Linked DNA regions of Homo sapiens: region 2 is linked to region 1. A link means that fine-mapping ties the variant in region 1 to the expression of a gene that starts in the linked region. Tissue or cell type: lung. Region 1 holds a variant in brackets; the other region holds the start of a gene. All regions are shown on one strand. Distances are between the middles of the regions.

The links. PIP is the estimated chance that this variant, and not a neighbour inherited with it, causes the effect.
Region 2: it holds the start of FRMPD4, and the variant in region 1 is fine-mapped to the expression of FRMPD4 in lung (TOPMed, PIP 0.95).

What each region holds. Positions count from the first base shown.
Region 1 is chrX:12,419,184-12,427,289 of GRCh38, forward strand. All of the region lies in intron 1 of FRMPD4 (FERM and PDZ domain containing 4), which reads left to right. Among named protein-coding and RNA genes, the nearest start is that of FRMPD4-AS1, 48 kb to the left of the region's middle. The variant T/C (reference allele first, on the strand shown) is at 3,505.
Region 2 is chrX:12,134,166-12,142,271 of GRCh38, forward strand. FRMPD4 (FERM and PDZ domain containing 4) reads left to right here and starts at 4,308. Exons shown (of 17, transcript NM_001368397.1): 1 at 4,308-4,847. The coding sequence starts at 4,807.

The sequences.
Region 1 (8,106 bases):
ATTTACTCATATCCACATACTACATCACCTCCTCCCCCTTGTGAGGGTGGAAGATAAGTTGTTTTTCCTGTCTCGGACAAAGCATCCTGTCTCCTATAGTACTGCAACAGATTGAATCCAGAAGCCGATAGAAAAAACCCACTGTCATCTGTCGAGCAATGTATTAAAGAGATCTATCTGCAAAATTGTAAAAAGATGCTGTTCTTCTCACCAAATGTTTTTGTTTTGGAAAATATGGTTATGTTTTATAAAAAGATATGACTTATGAAATAGAATTGTTGTTTTTAAATACATAAAAAATATTTCAATAATTTATCAGTTTTACTTTCTAGTATATTAGATATCGGTAGATGTAAGCAACATGCACAAAAACTCTTCGGGGGTCCTCAAAAATGTTTCAGAGTGGAAAGGAGTCCTGAGGGTGAAATGGTTGAGAAGTGCTGGTCTAAAACTCCCCAACCCAGTCAAATCTGGCTTCTGCCCATATCAGTTCACTGAACCTATTTGCTCCAAGGACACCAAATTCAAGGGCAAGTCCTTACTAGACTTCTGGGAATCATTCACACTGTTCTTGACCGTTCTTCTGGAAATGCTTTTCCTCTGACTTACAGGAGTCCAGAGAGGAACACCATGTACACTACTGGTGTTCTTCCTACCTCCCTGGCTCCTCCTCCTTTATCTCCTTCATGGGCTTTTCTTCCTCTGCCTAACCTTAAAGGTTAACGACCTGTGGGGCCCTCACCTCCTCCCACACTCCATGCTTCTTTGTTTTCCGTTACCGTCTTTAGGCTGGTGACAGCTGTGTTCAGCCCAGATCTTTCTGCCAATCTTCATACCTAAATACTGAGCAGCTTGCTGGGACACCTCTACCTGCCTATTCCACCAGCACCTATAATTTAACACGCCCTGAACTTATCATGTCACCATCACGCCTGCTCCTTCATCTCTATTCTCATGGCCCACACTCTGTCTAGTTGCCCATACCAGAAGTTTGGAAACCATTCTTGACTCTTTCCTTTGTCTTAAACCCTCACTGTCTTTCACAATATCCAAGCAATCTCCAAGCTCTGTGTCATCAGTGTCCTGAATCCTCAAAACAATCTGCTGTTCTCTAACTTCTAACACTGTCCCACCCGGGCCTCCATTGTCTCTACTAATGGCAGTAGTCTCCTAACTGGCTCTTTTCTAGCCTGTTTTCCACTGTGCCACCAGGGTCATCCTTCCAAGGCACAGAGCTCATCAATTCACTATTTCTTCAAGGCCCTGAAACACTTGTCCCCTCCACCTCTCACCTCACTTGCTGCATCTCTCATCACCTGCCCTCCCTCGGCATTCTGTGCTGGCTCCAAGGGCTTCCATGCTGCCATGGGCTCTCCCCTTCAGCCCCTCACACATGCTGATCCTTCATCCTTCATCCTGGGCCACCATCCCTGCCCCATCCCCATTTACACCTTCTTACCCTGAACACAGGCAGTGCTGACTAACTCAACACCGGTCGTTGATATTCAAGTTTAGATTTCTGACACACATCTAGCCTTCTGTAACACCCTATGTGTGCTCTGTGATGGCGTTTGTCAATCCACACATGTAACCGCATGTTTGATGTGACCTTCAGAAGGGCAGCAGCCTTGTCTCTCTTACATGTCATAGAATCCTCACAGCATCCTTTTCCAGCTCCATCACTTAACCACAATCTCTCCGTACCTATTTGTCGAATGAGGAAATTCGTATTTCTTTTCAATTTATCTTTCACTTTAAAGGTGAGCAGATTTACTGATTTTCCTTTGTCAAACAATCACAGGTGGCTTGAGCACAGAAAGGCAGTGATTTCAGTGCTTACAAAAATATAGCATTTATAGGTGTTCGAAGACATGGATATAATTTCACCTACTGCCTGCATGAAAGACTATCTGCGTCCTGATTGGCAATGGGAGTTGGCAACACATTGACCAGGTTAAGTCTTCTATCTATATATGAGGAGGGTGGGGTGTGAGGAATTGACATCTGATCAAAAGTTATTGTCCTAAGAAGTATGTCACCAAAAGTAATTCCATTTTTTTATGTCAAATGTGACCTTTACTTATAAAAACCCTAATGACAAAATAATCCTTTTTAGAAAACTGTTTTGTCACATCTGTGAGACAATGTAACTACAGAAGTTACCACAACACATATGTTCTAATCAAATAATATTGGTAGGTTAGGCTTCCATGCTCACGTCTCAAAAACTAAAATATTTGCAATGGAGGTAAAAGGCTTTTTCTATCTTTTTCATAAAAAGGCTTAATTTAAGGCCTGATGTGGAGGTTTAAGCCTGTAATCCCAGCACTTTGGGAGGTCAAGGCAGGAGGATCGCTTGAGTCCAGGAGTTTGAGACCAGACTGGACAACAAAGGAAGACCCCGTCTCTACACAAAGTATAAAAAATTAGCTGAGCATGGTGGTGTGTGCCTGTGGTCCCAGCTACCCCAGGAGGCTGAGGTGGGAGGATTGCTTGAGCCTCTGGGAGTTCCAAGCTGCAGTGAGCTATGACTGGGCCACTATACTTCAGCCTGGGTGACAGACAGAGACCCTATCTCAAAGAAAAAAAAAAAAAAAAAAAAGCTGGGGGGGCAGGGGCTGAATTTCTAGTTGATCACATAAGGAGACCAGTGAGATGTAAACCTAGGCAGTGTCCCAAAGCTGTTCCGGTTCTTGCCTTGGATATCTTCTTGCTGTCCATTCTTACTCCCTTTATTATGTTCTTCCCTCTTGCCCTTCTCTCACCAGACCTTCATTTCCACAAACACTTAGGAAGTAAAAAAGTCTAACATGTTTGAATCCTTGAAAACAGGGTGTAAAACATTTTGGTATGTAAAACATTTTTGGTATGTAAAACATTTCCTTTCCGGTATTATCATTTAATGTGTTTAATCATGAATTATAAGTGAGTATGGCTTTGGGGCGTGCTTCTTTTGAAAAGAAAAGGGCACATGATCACCACCTCCTGTGTCTCTTATCTGGTACATTTCCCTTGAAGGACTCAGCTCATTATCTGGCAAAGACGACCATGGTCTACAAGTCAGTTGGGTTCAACAAATGCTTATTAGCCATCTTCTAGAAACAGATATCGTGTAGGACGCTAGAGACAGGCTGTAGGCTTTGATATTTGGGGTTTGAAACCTGAATAGGGAGCGTCTTCCTCTTATTACATTCACTTTATTCAATCCTATTCATCTGAAAAATGGGGAACATAGGTATTATTTCAAATAGCTGTTCAAACAATCCTAGTTTATTCATCTGAAAAATTGGGGAAATTTTCAGATGAATAAACTAGGATCGTTTGAAAGGCTGTTTGAAGAATTCAATGAGATAATGCAAATAAGGTACCCAGCTCGGTGCCTGGTACCCAGGAGAAACTGGATAAGTAATGGCTTTCAGAATGATTACAGAGGATGAGGAAAGCTCTCCAGGATTCCACAGTGAGCTAGAAAGCGGTCTTCATTTTTGTAAGAAGTGAAACATA[T/C]AGGAGAAACAAATGTGAAAATACATTTTTATAAAAGTGGGAAATAGTTAGTCAATTCCACTCTGAAAGTAACCCTCTTGCTTTTTGGTTTAATCTGTTATAGATGAAGGGGATTAACTGCCAAGAGACTTGAACAACACACAGGTTTTTTTTGGTTCTTCATGCTTGCACCTGTTAAAAGGCAGAAGAGGTCCAAAAATGGGAAAGATGTGACTTTTTTGTGGAGGCTCATGTTTACTAGAGGGAGAGAAGGGCAGTAGACCGCATATGTCATGTTTGTTCAAACTGAGCTGAGAATTTGAGGGGAAAGGGTTTTCTTGACAGCTGGGTATTTCATATCCTGCCTGTGGAAACTCAGTAGGTTTCCAAGAGCAAAGTCTAGAGGCTATAACCTTGTGCTCCTGATGTCCTTGTGTGAAAGGATTATTTTCTGGCTTTGGAAGAGCAAAACACCTCTTAAAAATTCCGGCTCCTGAAGTGTTGTTGCAGTGAGCCGAACCAAGATCGCGCCACTACACGCCAGCCTGGGTGAGAGAGTGAGACGCCGTCTAAAATAAATAAATAAATAAATAAAAAATAAAAAACAAAAATTTCCCACTCCCGAAATCTGTTGGTACATGATTTCATTCTGAATAAGGTCATGGGGTCCAGTTGGCAGTAATCAAACATTGTTCAAAACTTGACCCTAAATCGTAGTTCCTCCCAAAGGTCTTGGAAAAATAGGAGATTAGGTTTTAAAGGGAAGGAAAACAAATGAGTGCTTCTCCTTAATTATGCTTTTGGCTGCCACTGTGGGGATTATGAGCTTTAAGCTTCTAAGCTTCCACCTTTTTGATATATTTCCTGTTACTGTATTATTGTTGCCCAAGTGAGGGTGGGGGTGCAGAAAGGTTTGCAAGGGAAAAATAACCTCATCAATGTAACTGAAATTCCTTTCTCTGCAATTCAGTGGCTGACTTTATTGTTATTGTACTTTTGAAAGATTTGTACAGTTGTCTTTCAATTGCATAACATTGTTTTTCATTTATGGAGCTAATTGCCTGCTAGTTACTGATGCTCTTTAACCTTATGCATTGAACTTTTACTCATTTTGAAATTAGATAAACTTCATGCAATGATGTTAGCATGTGGGGACTGCTGACAAAGCCCAATAAAGCTTTCTGTGCCCAATAATCTCAAATCACACACTACTGGATGGCTTAGGCTTGTCAGCAGATACTAACAAATACCACCATGTTGTCTTATACTGTTAAGTATAAAACAAGAAAAGAAAAAAGGAACAAAAAAAACAGAAAAGAACAAGAAGCTTTCAAAATAAAACATATCATGCCCTTTTGAGTTTAAGGGGCCATCTCGGGTTTTTAATTACTTGTTACTAGTAGCATGGCATTTTGTACATTTGCACAAAAGGACCGAAACTTGTCATTGTGAAGAAATGATGGGCAGTATCTATCTTGGGTATGGTTACCGGTCATAGAGTAGTTCTACTTTGAGCTTGCCATACGACCCTTGTCATTTCTTTTCAGATTGATTTTTCCTGCCCCATGTTAACTATCCAGCTAAAGACACCCTTCCTTTGAAGAACATCTGCAATGAAGGCTTTACTTAGTCACTGTAATTCTAGTTCTATTGATTTCATTTTCTGTTGTCACTTTTTGTATATAATATGCTATTCCTTGAATAGTAGGACTTCATTTTAAGACTTTTTTCATATTTCTCAAGAAGCTCTAGAAAGAACTTTTTCAAAAAATATTTCTCTTGGCACAAAAGAGTCTATAAAATATGATCTTAAATGGTAAAACTGAAATCTCTAGAGCAGTGCTTATCAAACTTTAATGAGCATAATTGTGACCTGGGGATCTTGTTAAAATACAGACTCTGATCAGATAGATCGAGGGTGGGACCCGGGCTTCTGCTTTCTGTTGGTCAAGGGACCACATTCTGATTAGCGAGGTTCAAGGCCTATCTGAAGTTCAGACTTCAACTTAGACTTACTGCCTATGCAACCACTGACCGTGTATCTCCCAAATGCTCCGGTCTCTCCATTTGGGAAATAATTATGCCATTTACCACATCATGAAAATATATGACAGCTTTCAACATTTTTTAATAATCTGAAAGTTTTCTGAGCATCCCTGTTCACCAGTGGCACATGAATTACAAATAAAGATTATAATTTCAGAATCTTGTGTACTGGGGCAAAGGCAATGCTACTTCTATAATGCGTTTGCTTTGTCAAAGACGAGCCTTACTCTAAATCCCTCAGTAATTCAGTTTTTTTTCCCCCAAGGGATATTTTCTGTAGGTTGAATATGAAAAACCCTTCTTTAAAAAATATTCCTAAACAGCTTTAATTATTTGTACCGAATTAGTCACTTTTCCTGACATGATTCAGGAAGACAAAATAAGTAAGTAGAGTGTTGCCTTCTTCACAAGACAGACATACCTACTGAGCTTATACTCGTGCTTAATTTTTTTTCTGTGCCTTTATTTTGTTAGGCCACATTTCTCAAAGAAGTGCCACCTTCCTCCTGTTTAGTCTTTTTGCTTTGTGTTCCATCATGTTCTTCTATCTGCTTGTCAGAACAATTTTGAAAGTTATCAGAAATTGCCAGCCAACCAGAGTTGTATTTCTTGTTCCCTTCTCTTCATTGTCAGTGGAAACAAAACAAAAATTATGTGTAAAAGGGTGCTGTCTCTTGTTTTTCCTAGAGCTCTGGGCCTACTAAACCTTGTTCCCTGTCACTATTGAGGGAATCTGCAAGCATTACATTATAGATACAAAGTAAACTTGTTTTATAGAGATTAACATTGGAATCTAAGAGAATTCCCTGATAAGATAACAGCTGGTATATTTCTTATGTCTCATGCATTGGTTCTCAACCGGGGGTATTTTGAGACACTTGGCAATGTCTGGAGACATTTTGGTTGTCACAGCTGAGGGTGGGTAGGGGCTACTGACATCCTGTGGGTTGAGGCCAGAGATGTTGCTAAACATCCTACAATGCATGCGGCAACTCCCCGCAAGAAAGAATGATCCAGTCCTAAATTTCTAGAGTGAGAAGGTCTTGAGAAACCTTGATGTGCTGTTACTCAATACAGTCTTGATTGCTTAGTGTGGTTGTTTTACTCTGTCTTTACTATTCTTAAATTCTACTGGACTTTATTTTGTTTTGATGCATGAGGGTGTTAGCCACGTAATTCCCATTAGAGTGATGAGAATTGTGTATGTAAATACTCTTCGGCAATGCAGTTGGACTCTCATGAGGATTTGATGATATCTTTTGTATAGGTAATTTTGTATGCTTTCAACAGCAGGTGATTTTCCATATATACTAAACCATTAAAAATTCTAGAAAGTTATTTTTCAAATCATGAATGTCTTATGACTGTTACTTGAGCAAATTTATTTTAAAATACATTTTGACAATAACTATCTCTTGAGGAAGACTGGGATTCCCAGACTAGAGGGATTGATCCCTCTTTCTGGAAGAAATATGGAGTAGTTTTCAGTCAGAGTATTTTAATGTGGCTTCAGGAGAGACACATTATAGAAACAAGATAGTAACCCCTCTTGAATTGCACTGATCCTGATTGCCTGTGAAGAAGATGGTTGATCTCTGCACCATCTTAGTACAGAGATCAGTGGCCCTCAAATCTTCTACTTTCAGGGCTAAGAGGGGCCTGAGGGATGGTTGAGAGCAGTCCCCTAACCTTAGAGATGAGTATTCGCAGTTGGAAACTGATTATTCATGGAATGGGAAAGAGATTATACAAAGAAAAGACTGGGTCCTGAAATCAGTGACCCAGTTTGAGCTAATGTAGACAATCTTGTTTTGCATAAGGCCTTGTTATTCTTTCTCATCAGGGCTGCTAACCTGAAGAAGGAAGTCTGCATGCCGCCCACCTTTCTCTACCCTTAATAGACCTTAAGCCACCCCCAAACAAAACAAACAAAAACACCACAGAACAGGGAAAATGGAAGGAGTAATAAAGTAACCTGATCTGCCCTTCCATAATCACAGAAGGATGCTTGCTCATGAAGAACACTCCTATCAGTCCGATGGTTAATTTCACCTCCTCCAGAAGCCATCTCTTAGCTTCTACTCTTCTAGCATGCACTCAAATCTTGACTTGGAAATAAAACGCCCTCCATCTGATCTCTATTTTTTGAGGCTTCTAGCTGTAGTTTTTTTTTGTTTTTTTTTAACTGGATTAGAATCCTGGCTCTATTACTAGCTGTGTGACCTCAGGGAAATTACATAAATTCTCTGTACCTAATCTCTGAAAACGAGTATCATAGGAGTCCTTACACTGTAGATAGGATGGTGAGAATTAGCTAAATTGATATATGTGAAGTGCTTAGGACAAGGTTTGGTACATTGTAAGCATAATGTAAAACATTAGTTATCGTTATGATGTATATACATACTCACTTATATTTGAACACCTTAGAACTTAATTTTGTTTCGATGCAAAGGATAATTAATTGGTTGCTGAAATCCCTCCTCCAGTACTTTATCACCGCATATTTAAGAATGTTCTGTCTCTTTAGTACAAAATTTTACATTCATAATGAGTTCTTTTTCTCCCCCAGTTCCA
Region 2 (8,106 bases), 290 kb before region 1:
ACCTCCTTATAGAAGTCTTCCTGAACCACTGAATAACAAATAGCCACCTAGCCACTCCCTTTCCATCAGAAGAATTTTAATTCTCTGCACATTGCTATCTGCTATTTTCTTGTTCACTACAATTTCTGATTTTGTTGTTTATCATCTACCTCCTCTTCATAAGTTCTATGAGAACAGAAACTTGCCTTGTTGCCTAGTCTATTTCCCAGTGCCTACAGTGGTGCCTGGTACATGGGAGACACTCCATAAATATTTGCTGATTGAATGGATACCTTGCTGTTATTTATTTACTTCTGTTTTCAGGACTGAGACCAGATGGTCGAGATGCTTCAGTCCAGCTGAGAAATGCTTGGGGCTCTCTCTATTGTAACTTGCAGCGAAAGAACCCTCAGCTGCCAACCTATATGGAACATCTGGCCCAATAGCAGATTCCTAACACCAGCTTTAGATAAGGCCTTAAGAATGATGAAGCTCCTCACACTTCCCCCTGAGAATCCCCCGGGGCATAAAAAATGCTACAGCCTAGGGCTTTAGTAACTGCCCAGGCAACAAAGTGTTTGATTTTTAGGCAAAAGTGCCTACCTCTGATTAATCCAAGCGAATGTTGGGCCTCCTAAATAGTCATCTTACAGGCTGAAACTTTTCCTACCAGTACTGCCAAGGCTGCAGACAGCTGTGGAAATCCTTCTAGAGCTAATATTCATGTGCCTCAACTCATATGTAGCCAACTGTAAACTGGTGCCAACTTCAAGTGCTCATTTTGTGTAAGGTAAAGATGTATTATTTCCATTTTACAGCTGAGGAAACTGAGTCTCAGAGAAGTTATAGGACTTGCTCTGGATCTGGTGACCCTGAGTCTTTTATTCATGAGTACTTTCAACAGTGTTTGAAAGTGTGTCTGGTTTTCAGAAATGACCAAATGTCACTTGAACCTAAGTAAAGCAAATTAAGTAGATTCTCAAGGTTGGATAATACAGTTTCCAACTAGTAAATCCCTACAAGATCCAGAAGGGGCCTTAGAGATCATCCAGGTTAATAAGAAAACTTCAGAAAACCACATATGTACTCAGGATCCCACTTTTTTGGCTTTTATTTGTTTTAGGCAGATCTAGTTCATGCTAGACAAACCTATCCTAACCTCTGCAGCACACACCTGGCACAGAGAGGGGACAGAGCTGAGAGACCAACTACTCCAATCTCTGCCCTTCTGCCAAGATGGCTTAAAGATATAAACACTCTGTGTTAGCATGTTTCAAGGGAGCAGCTTTTTCCATTGTTGTATTAATGAGAAACAAAGGAGGAGGGGTGGAATCTCTTTGCTTTAGAAAACAATATCAATCCATTAGAAAACATACTAGATAATTACTATATGAGAGGTGTGTAAAGACCTGTAGAAGTCAGTCATTTCCCTTGGTAGCTATTATGCTGTGGAGAGATGGCATCTGCATCATTCATAACCGTAGCGCACAAATTGGCACAGGGAGAAGGCCAACAGCAAGCTGTTCCAGGTAGACCAGATGTCTCCAAGGGAGGCTGTCTCTCTAGAAGTAAACACAATGTCTATTTCCTGTCACTTTCACTGTTGAATAATTAGATATTTGGTATCTGGAATAATTATTGATAAATAGGGTAATCCTTTTAAAAAGAGCATCCCAACTGTTCTCTTCTCAGAAGGAAGCACTTTTTCAAAACACATTCTCCAAAGGCACTGTTTTATCCCCTTTTCCCAATCACGAGCTGGTCTTGTGCTGCCAGATGTTGACTCAGAGATGAGGGAACGTGTCGGTGGCCACTCTTTTGGGGGAAAGGTAGAAAAGGTGAAGGGGGAAAATAACTGGAGAATGTAAGAAGGCCTTTGTTGCCATCATTAACAGTCAGTCCAAAGGAGGTTGAAGGATGCTGGGGAAGTGGATGGGTGGGGAAAGAGACAGATGTAAGCCACGAAGTCATACACAGATCAGTACTCACTGGGGATGCTTGGCCAGCTTTGGTTTGGCTGTGAATCCAATGGGCATATGATTTGTTCGTTCAACAAATATTTCTTAAGTTCTTTCTACATCTGGGGAAGTGGTCTAGGCATTTGAGATCCATCAGTGAAAAACAAAAGCAAAACAAAACAAAGATCCCAGCCCTTGTGGAGCTCCAGTGGGAGATTCAGACCAAAAAAAAAAAAAAGAAATCCTAAAGATAAAAATAAATTATATAGTGTGCTAGTGGGTGATAAATGCTATGGAAACAAGAAAAAAGAATAAAACAGTTAATAGGGACTCGGAGTCCAGGGTGTGAGAACCTTTTGCAATTTTAAATTGGCTTTCTAGAGGGGGCATTTTGGAAGTGGTATTGGTGCATACATTTGACAGGGTGGAGAAGCCGGCCATGCAGATATCCCAGGAAAGAGCATTCCAGGCTGAGGGAACAACCATTGCAAAGAGCCTAAGGTGGGAAGATTACCTGTAGAGTTTGAAGGATAGCAAGAAGTCCAGAATTGCTGGAGCCCAGTGAGTGTATGTGTGTGAGAGAGGAGGGGCTCGGGGTAGGGGATGAGGAGGGACAGAGAAAAACGGGAGAGGGAAGTGGGCAGTAATAGTTGAGGTAAGAAAGATCAAAGGATACGGGATCTAGGGTCCTGTTGGCCCTTGCAGGAGCGCAACTTTAGCTTGACGGACAATGGGGAGCTTTTACATATTTTAGATCAGACAAGTAGCCTTATGTGATCTACGTTAAAACACACACACACACACACACACACACACACACACATACACACACACAAAACATCTTTTTGTCTGGTATGTTGAGAATAGATTATGGCATAAAAATAAAAGATTTCTAAATATATTGCCTTATATGAAAAGGTTGCGATGAGACTCCAATGCAAAAAAAAGCTTTAAAAATTATAAAGCACAGTGCAGACCCAAACTATAATTATTTTACAAACAATAGAGTTCAAAAGCCAAGGTCCCTCTCGCCCCTTCCGATCCTTGAGTAGTAACTGCGTTCATGCAATTAAACTAGCCTGTTTAATAGAAGCTGCAGGAAAACTGATAACTATGTATTCAAAAACATGTAATTTTATGCCTGAGTTTTAAGTCATTTAGATTTTGCAGATTGCTATTTATTTTATGTTCAGTTTTTGAAATAAATGCTTAAAAAAAACGCTTTAGTACTAGGCTTGAATACTGAAGACTTTAAATATAACAACAGACCAGGAGAGGAGCAGAAGTGTGGGAACTTTAAACCTATTTCTTTCTTAATCCCCTCGGAGAGCTAGACTGGAACACTGGCTGGATCTTCCAACATTTCTGGGGGTGCTCTCTGTTCTTTGCGGTGGCCCTGCCGCCAGGTGAACGCTGCCGGTGGGAGAGCACACACTTAGTGCGGCCAGCTGACCTTCACAGTCTGGGGGGAAATTTTAAAGGATTGTGGAGAAGAGGCCTTGAGACTTCAAGAGGAAGAAGAAAAAGGGGCCCAATGAAGCCTGAGCCTCCCAGGAGGTAGAACTGAGTTAATGAACAGGGCTGATTATCCAAGGTAATTATGTAAAAGAGAAGGCTAGGAGGAGTTCTAGATGGCTGCAACTTGGAGTTTACTCTGCCTAAGGTGAGTGTTTATGTTTCTGTGTTTTTGCTTCTCCGGCAAGGTTTTGTTTTGTTTTGTTTTTTTCTTCCCTGTTCCCTTCACCCAAGGCTCAGTGTGCAAAAGCAGCTCGCTCTGCGTGGCAGACCCCATTCTAATCCTTCTCTTTCCTTAGATTCTGAGCCCGGTTAGAATTAGCCTCCGCATCACGGGCTCCTGGGACCCTCCGCTCTATGCTCCTCGAGGAGGGAGCAGCTGTGTTCATCCCCCTACCCGCAAATGCCTCCGGTTCTTATTTGGCAGACACTCCCGCGGTGCTGCTGTCCAAAGACACACCTTCCCAGCCAGCCCAGTGGTCACGTCTCGCCCCAGCGATTCGGGAGAAGCAGTGGGAACTCTGAGCTCCCCGAATCGAGCCCGCTGCGCCTGGCATCTCCCTTCCCTTCCCCTTGACAAACGACCCAACCTCAATCATCCCTGCTCCTTCCGAACGCTAGTTTTGTTTACGGAGCAAACCGAGGCTTTGAGCAACCTGCGGTTGCACGGCTCTCCTTCGGCTTGGGGAGGGAGGGGTAGCGTTCACAGTTCTCCAGTGTGCCATAGACTGTTAGACCAGATCCTTCAGATCTAGAGGCACACGCAGTGGGTGACAGGAGAGTGCCCCCTCCCCCCGGGCGGGTGGGGGTGGGGAGAGGAGCAGGGACTCGGCTTGGAGAAGGAGGCAGGGAGGCAGCTGCAGTGCTGCGAGGGGTGCGTGCGCGTGTGCCCAGCTCGCCTGCCGTCTCCCGGCTCCGTCTGCGCTCCTCGGTGCGTGGGGCACGAGGGTCCGAGGGCCGGGAAGCCAGAGCAGCGCCTCTCGCCCAGGCCTCGCTTTCTCTGGACGCCCGGCAGTCCCCGGGGCTAGAGCGCACGGGGCGGGGCGCGAGACCCGGGCCGCGCTCCCCGCCCCCGCCTCTTGCGCCCTGCCTGGCTCCCTCTCCATTGAGTTTTCCTGCCTCGGGTGCCTATCAATGGTCCTGCTCGGGGATGCACACGCAGCTCGCGGCCGGAGGGGGGTAGCAGCCGCCGCCTCCAGGTGCAGGTTCTCTCCGGCCGCCGCCGCCACCCGCTGTCGCCGCGACTCGAGCCCCGGGCGCACTGAGGTCTTGGCCATGGGGCTGCGGAGGCTGCTGTTGCTGGCGTGAGAAGGGGCGACGGAGTTGTCGCGCTCGGGGGTCCCCAGCTGCCTGCATGGATGTCTTCAGCTTTGTGAAGATTGCAAAGCTTTCGAGGTAGGGGCTGCGCGGGTTCCGTTTGCACCCAGGGCCGCTGCCGCGGGCAACTTGGTGCCTTATTTTTCGGGAGGCTGGGTAGAGGCAAAAGCTGGAAAGCGCGACGGGGCTTAAGACAAACGAAGTGGCCGGGGGCTTCCACGTTCAACTTATTTCTCACTGGCTGCTGAGGCTTGTGTAGCGGCGGGTGTAGACCACACACAGAGAGGTACATACATGCCCTCACCAACACACCGACATTCACGACAGTTTGTTTTCCCTAAGGAAAAGCCCCAGCGGTGTTTGGGGTCCCATGTATAATTCAGGGCTAAGAGAAGATGGTTGTAATTGCTACTGCTAGGGAAACCCAGAAGTGCTTGGAGCTTGGGTGCCTGCCTTCCAAGCTGCAAAGACCAAAAGTGCCGCCTTCCCCCAACTCCTAAATTACACCTCCACACCTCCACAAAGTCAGCTCCTAGATTGACCAGGTGCTCCCAACGGTAACCTAGATGGCGAAGTCATGTAGATAGAAGAGAAAGACTTTCAGCCTTTTTTTTTTTGGGGGGGGGGTAACTATATTCTTAAGCCTCGAAAGATTTAGAAATTTTCTTCTAAGTGGCCATGTTGTTAAAACAGTAGCTAAAACTAAATCATCGATTCAGACATTTTTGGGTAGTACTGATAAAAGAGGAACATTTCCACGCTTGGGCCGCCTAGGTGTTGCCTGGCCAGAGCACTCCTCCAGGTCTTCTGCCCTGCTTATGCTTCCAAAGTCTTCGTTTGAGCCACAGAGTAAGGTTTGTGCTGCTTGCTATGTGGCATTAATTGGGAAGAGCCCAATAGGAGTGGTCTTAGAAAACCATGCCCAACCTTCTCTGCCCCTGGAGCTCTTTATAGCAGCTACCACCAGGACGTAGGAGGTAGACAGTTGGGTTTTTCCAGGATGTAGCTTAAAAACTTACTTGCAATATGGACAGAATAATCCCAGGTTTTCCTTCAGTCCTGAGTGTCAGAGTGAGATGTGTTGATTGCATCAGGCAGGGATGAGCAGCTTCCAATAGTCAGAGGTAGAAACGTATGTTGACTTTGCTTTATTAAATTACATTAGACCACTTCAGAAAGGTTCTGTTTGGATGTTGCCATTCTCTCCGACATCTACAGGTCTTTGTTCTGCCTGCCCATCTCCACCTTCCCTTTCTACTAACATGGGTCAGTCTTCATGCCACTAGCAGATTTCCCCAGGCAGAAAGGCCCAGTGCAGCTTACTCTAAGTAGACTGGAGATACGCAGTTGATGGGTAAATACCTGTGTCTTAGAGCAGCTCAGGAAGAGGTGTTGTCCTGCAGATCAGAAGACTGATGTGTTAAGCAGTGGATGATTGTGGTGTGGCCAATTGTTTGCTTTCAAGCTGATCTCATAGAGGGCCATTGCTTCACACCACTATTCTATTAACTTCCTGCATGCTTCTGCCTAGGGCTAGTTTCTAAACAGCTGTCAAATATTGAACCATGGTTGGGAAGCAGCTGTGTGCAAGTTTAGAGGCTAAGTGGTACCCTCCGTGTGATGGACAGAGATACTGCTAAAGGGAAAGGGAAGTTCAACCAATAGTATAGTTCAAAGTAACCAGGATACTTTTTGGTGGCCTCAGATGCTAAAAACAGTTTAACAAAACATCTAGAGCCTCGATTTAGTCCTTAAACTTAGGAACTTTGGAGAGGACAGTGTCATGTGTCAGTGAAAAGATGTTTCATATTCTTTTTACTAAATTCTAGGATGCCTACATGATATTCACAAATCTGAGTTTTTGCAAAACTCAAGCAAGGCTGTGGGGAGAGTGGTATCTTATTTTAAAGAGAGTTTAAAATTTAGTAAATGAGTGTGAGTTTCACTTTCTATCCTTAATGTGATCCAGTAGAGTGTTTATTCTAAAGACAGAAGGTGCAAATGTTCTGAGCTGATGTGCCGATTAAGAAATCTTCCATCCATAGAATTCTTCTTTTTCTTTAGTGTGAGCCCGAGGATGGTCCCCGTGCTGAGATAGAAGTACCTTTAGAGGGTCATCAGCATGTAAAAACACATGTTTGCAGTTGCTTGTTTCTGCCTTGGGAGGAAGAAAGTCTTGTATGTGTTTTAAACACTGTTACAGAAAGCAAGTTCTTTTCTCAAAGGTGAAGTATGAAAGTGCTTATACTGCAGGATTTTCCTGATTTCAGAATGGATAATCTTCCTAAAGGATTTAGCTTTGATCAGCATGGTTACTTCAGTGCTTAAAATTCTCTTGGTTTAGAGGCAAACACATGTAGTTACCCTGGGTACCTGGCCTTACCTTTGGTTCCTACAAACTTGAGCTTCTAAATGTTAATTCAGAAGGCATATCTTGGAAGTGATATTTGCTTAGTGTCCTATCTGTGAGTAAAGACAGTGTAATTACAGAGAATTCCAAGAGAATATTATTCGACACTGGAATAAATAAACTGCATATTTTGACTTTTTAGAGTGTCTACATTTAACTATTCGTTTCCAGAATCTATACCCTTTTAATCGTGGGAAAAATCAGAATTGACAGTGCCCCTCAATAACCCAGTACCATTAAAAAAAAATTGCTGCCAAGTGTTGGAATTGCTGGTAAGTAGTTGGCACCCTTTACATCATCAGTTAGAGTTATGACCCTTGATTGCATCCTTCGTGGGTGGCACAGTGTGTCATGGTTCTATCTGAAGATGGTTTTTCCCGTTCTTCTAATTTTCTGGTTCTTAAACTGCTTGATAGTTTACATGCAGTTTTACTTCACTGTTTCCTTGGTAACAGTTCTATATTATTTTCCATCCTTGTAGATGAGAGCATTACAGATGATTGCCTTATAAACCAGTAATAGTATAAAAACAGGCATATATTTTTATTGTTACTGCTCTTTGTATTGACTATTTTATTTGTAAAGCAGATGCATTCTTTCAAATGTTTATAGAAGAATGCAGTCCAGTAGAAAAACATATGATTATGCCCCTTTTGCCAGAGGGAGATGATTTGAGATCCAAAACTCATAGGGATGTTATTAAATTGAGTGATATGTTCATAGATTAAGTCCCTGATTTGGCTTCTTTTCTTTAAGCAAAACGGTAGACTTGATGATAATGATTGAGTCCCCACTGTTGATATGATGATTTCTTATAGTAGTAGGTAAATTTGGGGAATGCTTTACTTTGCATTTTCTTATAGTTGCATGGGTTATTTTGTGGTATATAGCAGTGACTAATATCTAATATTAGAATGCTAATTTTCT